4 separate regions of the Homo sapiens genome follow, and all the other regions are linked to region 1. Evidence: fine-mapped expression QTL. A gene starts in region 1. Each other region holds a variant in brackets. All regions are shown on one strand. Distances are from middle to middle.

Evidence for each region.
Region 2: its variant is fine-mapped to the expression of ODR4 in whole blood (INTERVAL, PIP 0.91).
Region 3: its variant is fine-mapped to the expression of ODR4 in testis (GTEx, PIP above 0.99). The same link has a PIP of 0.9 or more in caudate, pituitary and subcutaneous fat.
Region 4: its variant is fine-mapped to the expression of ODR4 in testis (GTEx, PIP 0.99).

What each region holds. Positions count from the first base shown.
Region 1 is chr1:186,374,779-186,377,470 of GRCh38, reverse strand. It overlaps ODR4 (odr-4 GPCR localization factor homolog), which reads right to left and starts at 1,633. Exons shown (of 14, transcript NM_017847.6): 1 at 1,497-1,633. TPR (translocated promoter region, nuclear basket protein) reads left to right here and starts at 2,218. Exons shown (of 51, transcript NM_003292.3): 1 at 2,218-2,593. The coding sequence starts at 2,443. RefSeq lists enhancers at 1,604-1,793, 1,964-2,013, 2,174-2,473.
Region 2 is chr1:186,404,061-186,406,752 of GRCh38, reverse strand. It overlaps ODR4 (odr-4 GPCR localization factor homolog), which reads right to left. Exons shown (of 14, transcript NM_017847.6): 12 at 485-670. Among named protein-coding and RNA genes, the nearest start is that of ODR4, 30 kb to the right of the region's middle. The variant T/C (reference allele first, on the strand shown) is at 1,473.
Region 3 is chr1:186,888,976-186,891,667 of GRCh38, reverse strand. All of the region lies in intron 3 of PLA2G4A (phospholipase A2 group IVA), which reads right to left. Among named protein-coding and RNA genes, the nearest start is that of PLA2G4A, 61 kb to the right of the region's middle. The variant C/T (reference allele first, on the strand shown) is at 1,050.
Region 4 is chr1:186,916,439-186,919,130 of GRCh38, reverse strand. All of the region lies in intron 7 of PLA2G4A (phospholipase A2 group IVA), which reads right to left. Among named protein-coding and RNA genes, the nearest start is that of PLA2G4A, 89 kb to the right of the region's middle. The variant C/T (reference allele first, on the strand shown) is at 1,197.

The DNA of each region.
Region 1 (2,692 bases):
CCATATTAATGTGTAAGAAACTGAATGTAATAGGGAGATGAAAATCTATTCAATTATGAAATCTGATTGAATGTCAGATAAATTTTTCTTTAGTGCTCTTTCAAAATTTTTAAATGTAGTCAACCATACTTTATAAAAGGCAGTACTAAAAATGTATATAGTCAGCTTTCCACATCTGTGGTTTCCACTTCCATGTATTCAACCAACCACAGATTGAAAAATTATTTTTTTAAAGCATGATTACATCTGTATCATTAAAGATGTTTTTTCTTGTCACTATTCCCTAAACAATATAATATAACAACTATAGCATTTACATTGTATTAGGTATTATAAGTAACTTAGAGATGATTTAAGATATGCAAATGCTACACCATTTAATATAAGGAACTGGAGCATCCATGGATTTCATATCCATGGGGTGGGCAGGTGAGAGGGTCCTGGAACCAATGCCCCACGGATACCAAGGGACAACTGTATTTTGCCTTATAGGGTCATAATTTTCCAGAAATGTTGTATATCAGCCAAAGCCTTTGTGGTCCAAGCACTGTGACTGACACAACTCAACCTTTCTGGGCTCTGGTTTCCTAATCTATAAAATAAAGCATTTGAATCCTAGCAGATCTGAAAACCTATCTAATTTTAGGATTCTGTGAATCTAAGTACAGAAAAATCTACATTTCCCAAATGACAGATCAACAGTATGATAATACTGTGGGCTTAGGACATAGCATAATACTTCATATACCAGCAACTTTAATTACAATGCTTATCTAAAAAATATTTTTGGGGAAAAATCAACCTTAAGCTCCGCTGTTGATTTATTTTTCCTTAGTTATTACAAAATATCATAAAATGCTTCCATTTATATTTCTTAGACGGCTTCACAACATGATTCAAAAGTAAGAACTAGAGAAAAAGAATAAATTTCATATAAGAACTAAATCACCAATTCACAGAAGGCCCACGACTGTGGGAACTGCAGAGAGACGACACTGGGAATGCATTATTTACAATGAATAATTTAACAAATTCTTTCATAAGAGTAAACACGAAACAATCTACGGATTGAGCTTTAAAACTACAGAATTATGATCTGGAACCATACAAGTTCTGTTACTGTAGAAATTAACAATGTGTTTAAAAACTTCAGTTACAACAGTTTTCAATTTTAAAAACAATATAATGTTAGGTAACCGTTTCTGCAACGAAAAATTTAAAACATAGGCTACACTCAAAGTGCTACCGGTTTCTTTTAATTCTCCTCCTGAAGAATTAACCCGGGTCCTTAAATTCCCGGGTACTGAATCACTCAGTGCCACCTCCCCACCACCAAAAACCATTTAGGTACGCCGTTTCACACAAGGTAAGTTCGTCAGAAGTGTGTGCCGGAGTGACTGTCCATATGGTTCCAACACTGTCCCTTCCTTTTTCTCTTGAAAAGAGAGCACACACACACACACACACACACACACACTACACTTAGGCTGACTTACCTGTTTTCAGAATGTGCACTCGTGGCAGACAATTACCTCGGACGGTCTCTCCGCCGGAGATGGGGGTTTCGGGCCCAAGTACCAGCCTCTAGGGGCCAGATTCCCTCCGGTCTCAATTCACTGCCACTGAATTCATCAGAAAGCGACCTACTTCCCACACCTCACTTCCCACTCCAAAGCCAGGGACTTGGGAGTCAGGTGGCGCAGATTGATGACGTAAAAGCCCCCCCTCCCTTCCCCGCAGAGCCTCAGCCAAAGCGACTGCGGTCGCCACCCCGCCCCCTTCTGGGCGCCATAGAGAGCGTGGCGGTATCCCGGAGCCTGCCGTCCGGCCCTACCGGGACCGATGCCCTCTAGTGGCTCAGTGTCCAGAAGCCGCCAACGAGGACGATCCATGGCATCCCGGGGCTTTGACGGTAAGGTCACCAGCTCTTCAGGGAGGGCCAAGGGGTGACGAGTACGTATGTGGCGCCACCGTGCGGACAGCGGTTACGGGGCCGAGATAGGAGAGCCAGGGGAGCGGGGAGAAAAACGGAAGCTGAGAGGGCGGTGCAGCATTGGGCTCCCGGAAAAGAATGAGAAAAACACTACATTTCCCAGAGCCCTACAAGGCCTGAAGTGGGTGGAGCTGGAAGCCGGAAAATTGGGTGCGCAAGAGGATCAGGGATAGCCTCTGAGCTCGGGTTCCCAGGGTTCGTAGCTTCCAACGGCTGCGCGCGCACTTCGGTCGCGGGCGGTGAGGTGCTGTTGCTGAAACGCTGCCGCTGAGGGTGGACTCGATTTCCCAGGGTCCCGCCGCGGGAGTCTCCGGCGGGCGGGCGCGCGCGAGCCACCGAGCGAGGTGATAGAGGCGGCGGCCCAGGCGTCTGGGTCCTGCTGGTCTTCGCCTTTCTTCTCCGCTTCTACCCCGTCGGCCGCTGCCACTGGGGTCCCTGGCCCCACCGACATGGCGGCGGTGTTGCAGCAAGTCCTGGAGCGCACGGAGCTGAACAAGCTGCCCAAGTCTGTCCAGAACAAACTTGAAAAGTTCCTTGCTGATCAGCAATCCGAGATCGATGGCCTGAAGGGGCGGCATGAGAAATTTAAGGTGGAGAGCGGTAAGTGAGATGCTCTTTCCGTCCTTGGTTTTGGGCTCGACTCCCGCCCTTTGGGTCTGGTCTTCCCCCATCAAGTTGGCACTGGGTACCGCTCTGTTA
Region 2 (2,692 bases), 29 kb before region 1:
AATTTCTGGAACTGCCCATTTTGGCTTAGTATCCCAATTACATGAAAGGTATATGAAAAAAAAAAGGCAAATAATATGGAGAAAATGTTTAATAAATTAGTGTTTTAAAACCTTCTGTTCTGACATGATGCTTTACCAAGTAAGATAATGAGTTTTGAGAAAACTTTTATATTGAAAGAAATACCTTAAAGCTTTGTAATTTTACCTACTTAATCCTGAACTTGTTTTATTAAGATCTACTTGCTAAGCTTGAAAAATACCTTAGTATCTTAAATTTTGGTACAATTTCCCAGGAAATACTCACTGTATGTCTAGACATGTAGAAATTAAACATGTATTTTAAAATGTCTCAGTTAATATTTCGAAGTGTCAAACAGAACTAGCTTTAAAAAAAATCTAAAGACATGATATTTAAACTAGACATCTCATAGGTAAAATCTTAGCTGTAATCTAACCAGGTTCTTAAATAGCATCATATAATGACCTGTGTTTGTTTCCTCTGCAATTTCCAAATCTTCTATTTGAATTGTGTGATCCAACATCTCCATAAAATGGTCCCTGATTTCTTCAGCTGACTCATCGTCAAATTTATAATCACACAACATTACAGTGGATCCAGGAAGGGGAACAAAGACTCGATAAGGGAGGACGTGGAACTCTTTTTCAGAATCTAAAAGGAAAAGAAATATTATCAATATTTAGATAGGTTTGTCACTGGTATCAGTGATACATATTTTAGAAGTACATACAAAAACTAATAGAAATAAAGCTTAAAAGGTCAATATTTTTTCATTTTCTGGTTGATCTGGCACAAAATTGCTCTTACCAAATTCTGCTTTACCTCAAAACCCCTGGTCTTTGCAAGGAACCTAAATGATACTCCTATGAAAAATAAACTTATCTCCAGGCGCGGTGGCTCATGCCTGTAATCCCAGCACTTTGGGAGGCTGAGGTGGGCAGATCACTTGAGGTCAGGAGTTGGAGACCAACGTGGCCAACATGGTGAAACCCCGTTTCTACTAAAAATACAAAAATTAGTCAGGCGTGGTGGCAGGTGCCTGTAATCCCAGCTACTCAGGAGGCTGAGGCAGGAGGATTTCTTGAACCGGGAGGTGGAGGTTGCGGTGAGCCAAGATCGCACCACTGCACTCCAGCCTGGGCAACAGAGCGAGACTCCATCTCAAAATAAAAATAAAAATAAAATAAACTTATCATTGCCTTCAATGTAAAGCTGTTGATTACACATTCTTATACGACCCACTGTCCTATGAAGAACACTCAAGAGACAATTTTGTCCTTGATGTCAGAAACTATTGTCCTTCTTGTCTGTTTTAGCCTCATAGGCACTGTACATTTTATAGTTGGTTTTTCTCTTCTTCATCCAAGTTTGGAGCCAAATTACTGGCCACCTTACATCTAGTGCACAGGATCTGATAGAATACATTTTTGTATTAATCTCCCCATGAATTTCA[T/C]CTTACTAGATGTAGCCCCCTTCCTATATATCAAGCATGTTTAGGACATCTAGTCATACATACAGTTTTGTGTACCTATCTCACTACCAACTCCATTTTGCTTTCTTTTTTTACCTTCCCTTTGACTCTTTATTACTAATATTTATTTTCACTTGTTTACTTATGCTTCTTTGTAAAAAGCCTTAAATCATTTTTAGAAAAAAATAAATCTAAATAAATAACAAATATCTCATTCTTCTGTGAATACTTACAAACTGGAATATATTATTTCCCCTAATTTCTAACATAGTCACTGTTGCATGTAAATATATAATTACTTTTTAGTTAAATGCTACGATCCTTATGAACTATCAGAAAGATAGAAATTTTGTGAAAAGAATGACCTCTTTCAGCAACAGATATGATTAAAAAGTTACTAATGTAAAGATCAAGTGGAAAACTAGGGCTTATTTTAATAGTAACCTAGACTTCGTTGTCAAGAAACTAGTGGTAACTTTACATAATTACAAACAGAAGATGACGAACAATGCCTTAAGTGTCACAGGAAATGCAATGGCTTAAACTACGTGTTCCTTCCAGATTCTGTGTATTATCTTGTTTGCACATGAGAACTGGGAGAGAAATTTTACTCTTTGACCAGACTGCCTCCTAGCTGTAGAAGAATATTACTGCAATTTGTACTGTAGCACGAAAATTGTCCACACATTGAAATTAGGACTATATTATTTTATTTTGAGCCACAGTTACTTGAAACAGATTAAGTAAAAACTCAAAAATGACTCTAATGTGCATGTGCAATTGGCATGCAAAATTTTAAAACCATTTCAAACTACATCAATTCTTGGTCTATCTGAAAAATAACAAGCTAAAAAAATCAAACGTTAAATAACTGGTTCCAATAAATTTAAATTACTCATTAAAAAGAAAAAGCACTACAACTTTCAAATTAAGAAGTTAAATTAGCAATTTAGTATCTAAGTAAGACTCGTTTTCTGTTGGTCTGAGGTTTAAATGGGAGGAGAAATCTTTTGGAAAAGACACATCTCAAAAAGCACTCCAAAGCAGAATCCTTTAGGAATATCCTCATGTCATAGTATCTAGTTCAACATTATCTGAATAAAGTCAAAACAAATAAAAAAATTTTAAAATTAAGCCAATATAATAAGAATTGGGTTTCTATTGGTTAAATGTCCTAGCTGGTATCAGAGTAGTACTGAAAC
Region 3 (2,692 bases), 510 kb before region 1:
TACACAATGGAGTGTTACTCAGCCATAAAGAAGAATGAGATCTCGCCATTTGCATGGATGGAACTGGAAGTCATTATCTTAAGTGAAATAAGCCAGGCACAGAAAGACAAACAGCACATATTCTCACTTATTTGTGGGATCTAAGAATCAAAACAGTTGAACCCATGGAGGGGGCAGAAGGATGATTACCAGAGGCTGGGAAGGGTAGTAGGGGGCTGGAGGGGAGGTGGGGATGGTTAATGGATACAAAAAAAACACAACAGAAAAATGAATAAGACTTGCTATTTGATAACACAACAGGGTGACGATAGTCAATAATAACCTAATTGTTCACTTAAAAGTAACTAAAAGAGTGTAATTGGATTATTTGCAACAAATCATAAATGCTTCAGAGGATGGATACCCTATTCTCCATGATGTGATTACTTTACACTGCATACCTATATCAAAACACTTCACTTACCCCATAAATATATACACCTACTATGTACCCATAAAAATTAAAAAGTAAAAGTAAAAAGTAAAAAAGAAAAAAAATTGAAAAATACTTTTTTTTAAAAAAAAGATTATATTTGTCAATGTTAGAAAAATCATCCTGCTTACTTTATCAGATAAAATAATGGAAGTCATTGTGAGAAGAATATTGTTTATTGTTATAGAGTTGCCTTGTATGGTTGTACAGGTTGTACACTGAACAACTTTAAGGGGTGGCACTCATATTAAAAATCAACATGTATTTATTATGGCAATATTCAGATGGAAATGAGGTGTCTCTATGAAGCAACAATTTTTTTCTTTTCCTTTTTTTTTTTTTTTGAGACAGAGTCTTGCTCTGTTGCCAGGCTGGAGTGCAGTGGCACAATCTCAGCTCACTGCAACCTCGGCCTCCTGGTTCAAGCAATTTTCGTGCCTCAGCCTCCAGAGTAGCTGGGATTACAGGCACATGCCACTATGCCCGGCTAATTTTTGTATATTCAGTAGAGACAGGGTTACACCATGTTGGCCAGGATGGTCTCGATCTCCTGACCTCCTGATCTGCCCGCCTCAGA[C/T]TCCCGAAGTGCTGGGATTACAGGCATGAGCCACCATGCCCGGCCAGTAACGGTTTTTTCTATTTCACATAAATACCCACTTGAATCAGGGTATGATATGTGTGCCCACTGAAATAGAACAAAACAATTGCAAATAAAGAAATTATTTTAATTTCCTCCCATTACATATACACTTAGCAACAAAGCGAGTGACCCAAACTGTGCAAGTATTGATCACTCCTTTTTTAGGATTCCACCGAATCCTTTAATGTCTTACAGCACTGGACACACTATACTTTATGGATGAAATTATACATCTATCTGTCTTTTCCTACAAGACTATAAACAACTTGAGGGCAAAGATCTTGTCTTCCTCAGCTGTACATCTTCAGAAGCTAACAACAGAAAGCGACAATTACAATATTTAAGGTTTCCTAACCTATCGACTTGACTTTCCCGTTTAACAGGTGCTTTTCCATGCGGCCATTATAATTAATAACAAAAACAACAAATAACTAAGTAATGACTACAGGGATCTGTGTTAAGTACTTTACACACATTAGTCTCATTTAAATCTCACAATCGCGCTATAATGTAAGTACTTTATTTTAGTGTTAAAGTAACAGGAACTGAGAAATATTAAGCATTCTGTCCAATATCACATAGCTAATAAGTATCAGGTCAAGTTCTTGAACCTGGGTCATTTGACTACAACAATCATTCTCTTATTACATCATGTTCCTCAGTAACAAAAATTAGATTACAGGGTATGGATTCTATGGAAAGAGGAGCTGGAATTAGAGGAAGAGAAAGAGAGGGTGAGTGCAAGAGTGAGGGAGGGAGGGGGGAGAGAAGAAGTACAGAGGTCTAAACAAAAAGATCCAACAGTTGAAAATAAAGGAAAAGCAAAAATAATAGTTTCTGACCTATTGATTGGGTTTCCCCCCCAAAAAAATTTAAATAGATGTTGTCTGTCAACAACAGCTATGGTCATCAAAAAACGTAATCAATGTCTTTCACTTAATTGTTCAGTATTGCTCCTAGTTCTTTATGTAGTCATCAGCTTCTTTAGATGCATGTGTATGTTTAGTGGTTGTTATTATAAAACGGGAGGATCTACAAACAAGGTATCAGCCTTTGAGGCTGCCTTTAATTTTCCGGCTTGGACCTTATACATCATTGGTAAAGAGCAGTGGGGCAAAAGTGAGAGTGCAACACAAATGCCCAGGGTTATTGTAAAAACATAGACCCCGACCTTCATCCCCGAAGACCCATTGTCTGCATATCTGTAGTGGAATTAAGGGCTTGCAATTTTTAACAAATAGTCTAGCTGACACTGATGTGGATCATCTTCTGGTCACACTTTTGATATCCTATTTTAGACAAAAGGGGAAAGCCAGTCATTCTCATTTCTAACTCAGTGCTTATAACTCTCAACAGGACCATGGAATACAAATTAGAGAACAAAAAGATTGAGTGGGAAGGATGATAAGGTGAAATGGGCCAAAGAAGAAGAGAACATGTCATAGGGTAACATTATCACATTTTCAACCAGGAGGTGACTGCTTCTTTTCCTTAACCATGTTTCTACCATATCACCAGTGCTCAGGATTGCAAATCAGAAGTAAAACTCCATATTTAGAATAGCAGTTGGTAGAAAATTA
Region 4 (2,692 bases), 540 kb before region 1:
GGAAAAACTTATGTCGGCCCCAGCCCTAGGACTACCAGATTTGACAAAGCCCTTTACACTCTATGTGTCAGAAAGAGAAAAAATGGCAGTTGGAGTTTTAACCCAGACTGTGGGGCCCTGGCCAAGGCCAGTGGCCTATCTCTCAAAACAACTAGATGGGTTTCCAAAGGCTGGCCACTATGTCTAAGGACCCTGGCAGCAACAGCCCTGTTAGCACAAGAAGCAGATAAACTAACCCTTGGGCAAAACCTGAATATAAAGGCCCCCCATGCTGTGGTAACTTTGATGACTACCGAAGGACATCATTGGCTAACAAATGCTAGATTAACCAAGTACCAAAGCTTGCCATGTGAAAATCCCCACATAACTATTGAAGTCTGTAACACCCTAAATCCCACCACCCTGCTCCCAGTATCAGAGAGCCCGGGCGAGCATAACTGTGTAGAGGTGTTGGACTCAGTCTATTCTAGCAGACCTGACCTTCGGGACCAGCCATGGGCATCATCAGTAGACTGGGAGTTATACATGGACGGGAGCAGCTTCATCAACTCACAAGGAGAAAGATGTGCAGGATATGCGGTGGTAACTTTGGATGCTGTCATTAAAGCCAAACTGTGGCTACAGGGCACTTCAGCCCAGAAGGCTGAGCTCATTGCTTTAACTCGGGCTGTAGAACTCAGTGAAGGTAAGACTGTAAACATCTACACTGACTCTGGATATGCCTCTCTAACCCTCCAAGTGCATGGAGCATTATATAAGGAAAAGGGCCTGTTAAACTCTGGGGGAAAGGACATAAAATATCAACAGTAAATTCTACAATTATTAGAGGCAGTGTGGAAACCTCAGAAGGTGGCAGTCATGCACTGCAGGGGACACCAGCGAGCCTCCACCTCAGTGGCCTTAAGAAACTCTCGACCTGATTCAGAAGCTCAAAAAGCAGCATCTACCCCTTACTGGGCATCGATAGCAGCCCCCTTACTCCCTCAAACACCTGACCTGGTACATACCTATTCTAAGGAAGAAAAAGACTTCTTCCACCCAGACAGGGGGCAAGTAATAAAAGGAGGATGAATCAGACTGCCAGATGGGAGGGTAGCTGTGCTGCAGTTGCTGGGAGCCACAGTCGTATTGGCCATGCACGAAACCACTCACCTAGGGCAAGAGTCACTTGAAGAATTGTTAGGCCGGTACTTCTA[C/T]GTCTCACACTTGCCAGCCTTTGCCAAAGCAGTAGCACAACTGTGCATTACATGCCGACAGCACAATGCGAGGCAAAGCCCCACTGTTTCGCCCCACATACAAGCTTATGGAGCAGCTCCTTTTGAGGATCTTCAGGTGGATTTCACAGAAATGCCAAAATGTGGAGGTAACAAGTATTTGCTGGTTCTTACGTGTACTTACTCTGGGTGGGTGGAGGCTTATCCAACACGAACTGAAAAGCCCTACAAGGTAACCCATGTGCTTCTCCAAGATCTTATTCCTAGGTTTGGACTGCCCTTATGAATCAGCTCAGATAACGGGCCGGCATTTGTGGCTCACTTGGTACGGAAGACAGCAAAGGCATTAGGAATCACTTGGAAGCTACATACCGCCTACTGACCTCAGAGTTCCGGAAAGGTGGAGCGAATGAATCGGACTATCAAAAATAGTTTAGGGAAAGTATGTCAGGAAACAGGATTAAAGTGGATACAGGCCCTTCCTATGGTATTGTTTAAAATTAGATGCACTCCTTCTAAGAAAACAGGATACTCCCCTTAAGAAATACTGTATCATAGGCCTCCTCCTATACTAGGAGAGCTTCCAGGCACTTCCCAAGAGTTAGGTGAATTGAATTACAGCGACAGCTACAGGCTTTAGGAAAAATTACACAAACAATCTCAACTTGGGTAAATGAGAGGTGTCCCATCAGCTTATTCTCCCCAGTTCACCCTTTCTCTCCAGGTGATCGCGTATGAATCAAGGACTGGAATGTAGCCCCTTTGCGGCCACGGTGGAAAGGACCTCAGACCATCATCCTGAACACCCCCACAGCTGTAAAGGTAGAAGGAATCCCACCCTGGATCCACCACAGCCGTGTGAAACCTGCAGCCGCTGAAACCTGGAAGGCAAAACCGAGCCCGGACAACCCCTGCAAAGTGACTCTGAGGAGGACGACAAGCCCTGCTCCAGTCACACCCAGAAGCTGACTGGTCTATGCACAGCCGAAGCATGAGGAAAATTATCATGGGATTCATTTTCCTTATAATTTGGACTTGTATAGTAGACACTTCCACTGATTTTCCCTGCATGGAGGACTGCTCTCAGTGTATACATCAGGTTACCGAGGTAGGGCAACAAGTTAAAACAATTATTCTGTTCTATAGTTACTATGAATGCCTAGGAACTTTAAAAGGAACATGTTTATATAATGACACTCAGTACAGGTATGTAGCCCAGGAAACGACAGACCAGATGTGTGTTATGACCCCTCTGAGCCTCCCATGTCCACTGTTTTTGAAATAAGATTAAGGACTGAAGACTGGTGGGGACTCATAAATGATACAAGTAAAGTATTAGCCAGAACAGAAGAAAAAGGGGTGCCCAAACGCATAATCTTGAAATTTGATGCCTGTGCTATCATTAATAGCAATAAGCTAGGAAGGGGATGTGGCCATTTTAGTTGGGAAAAAGGCTATATGACCAAAAATAAGTACAT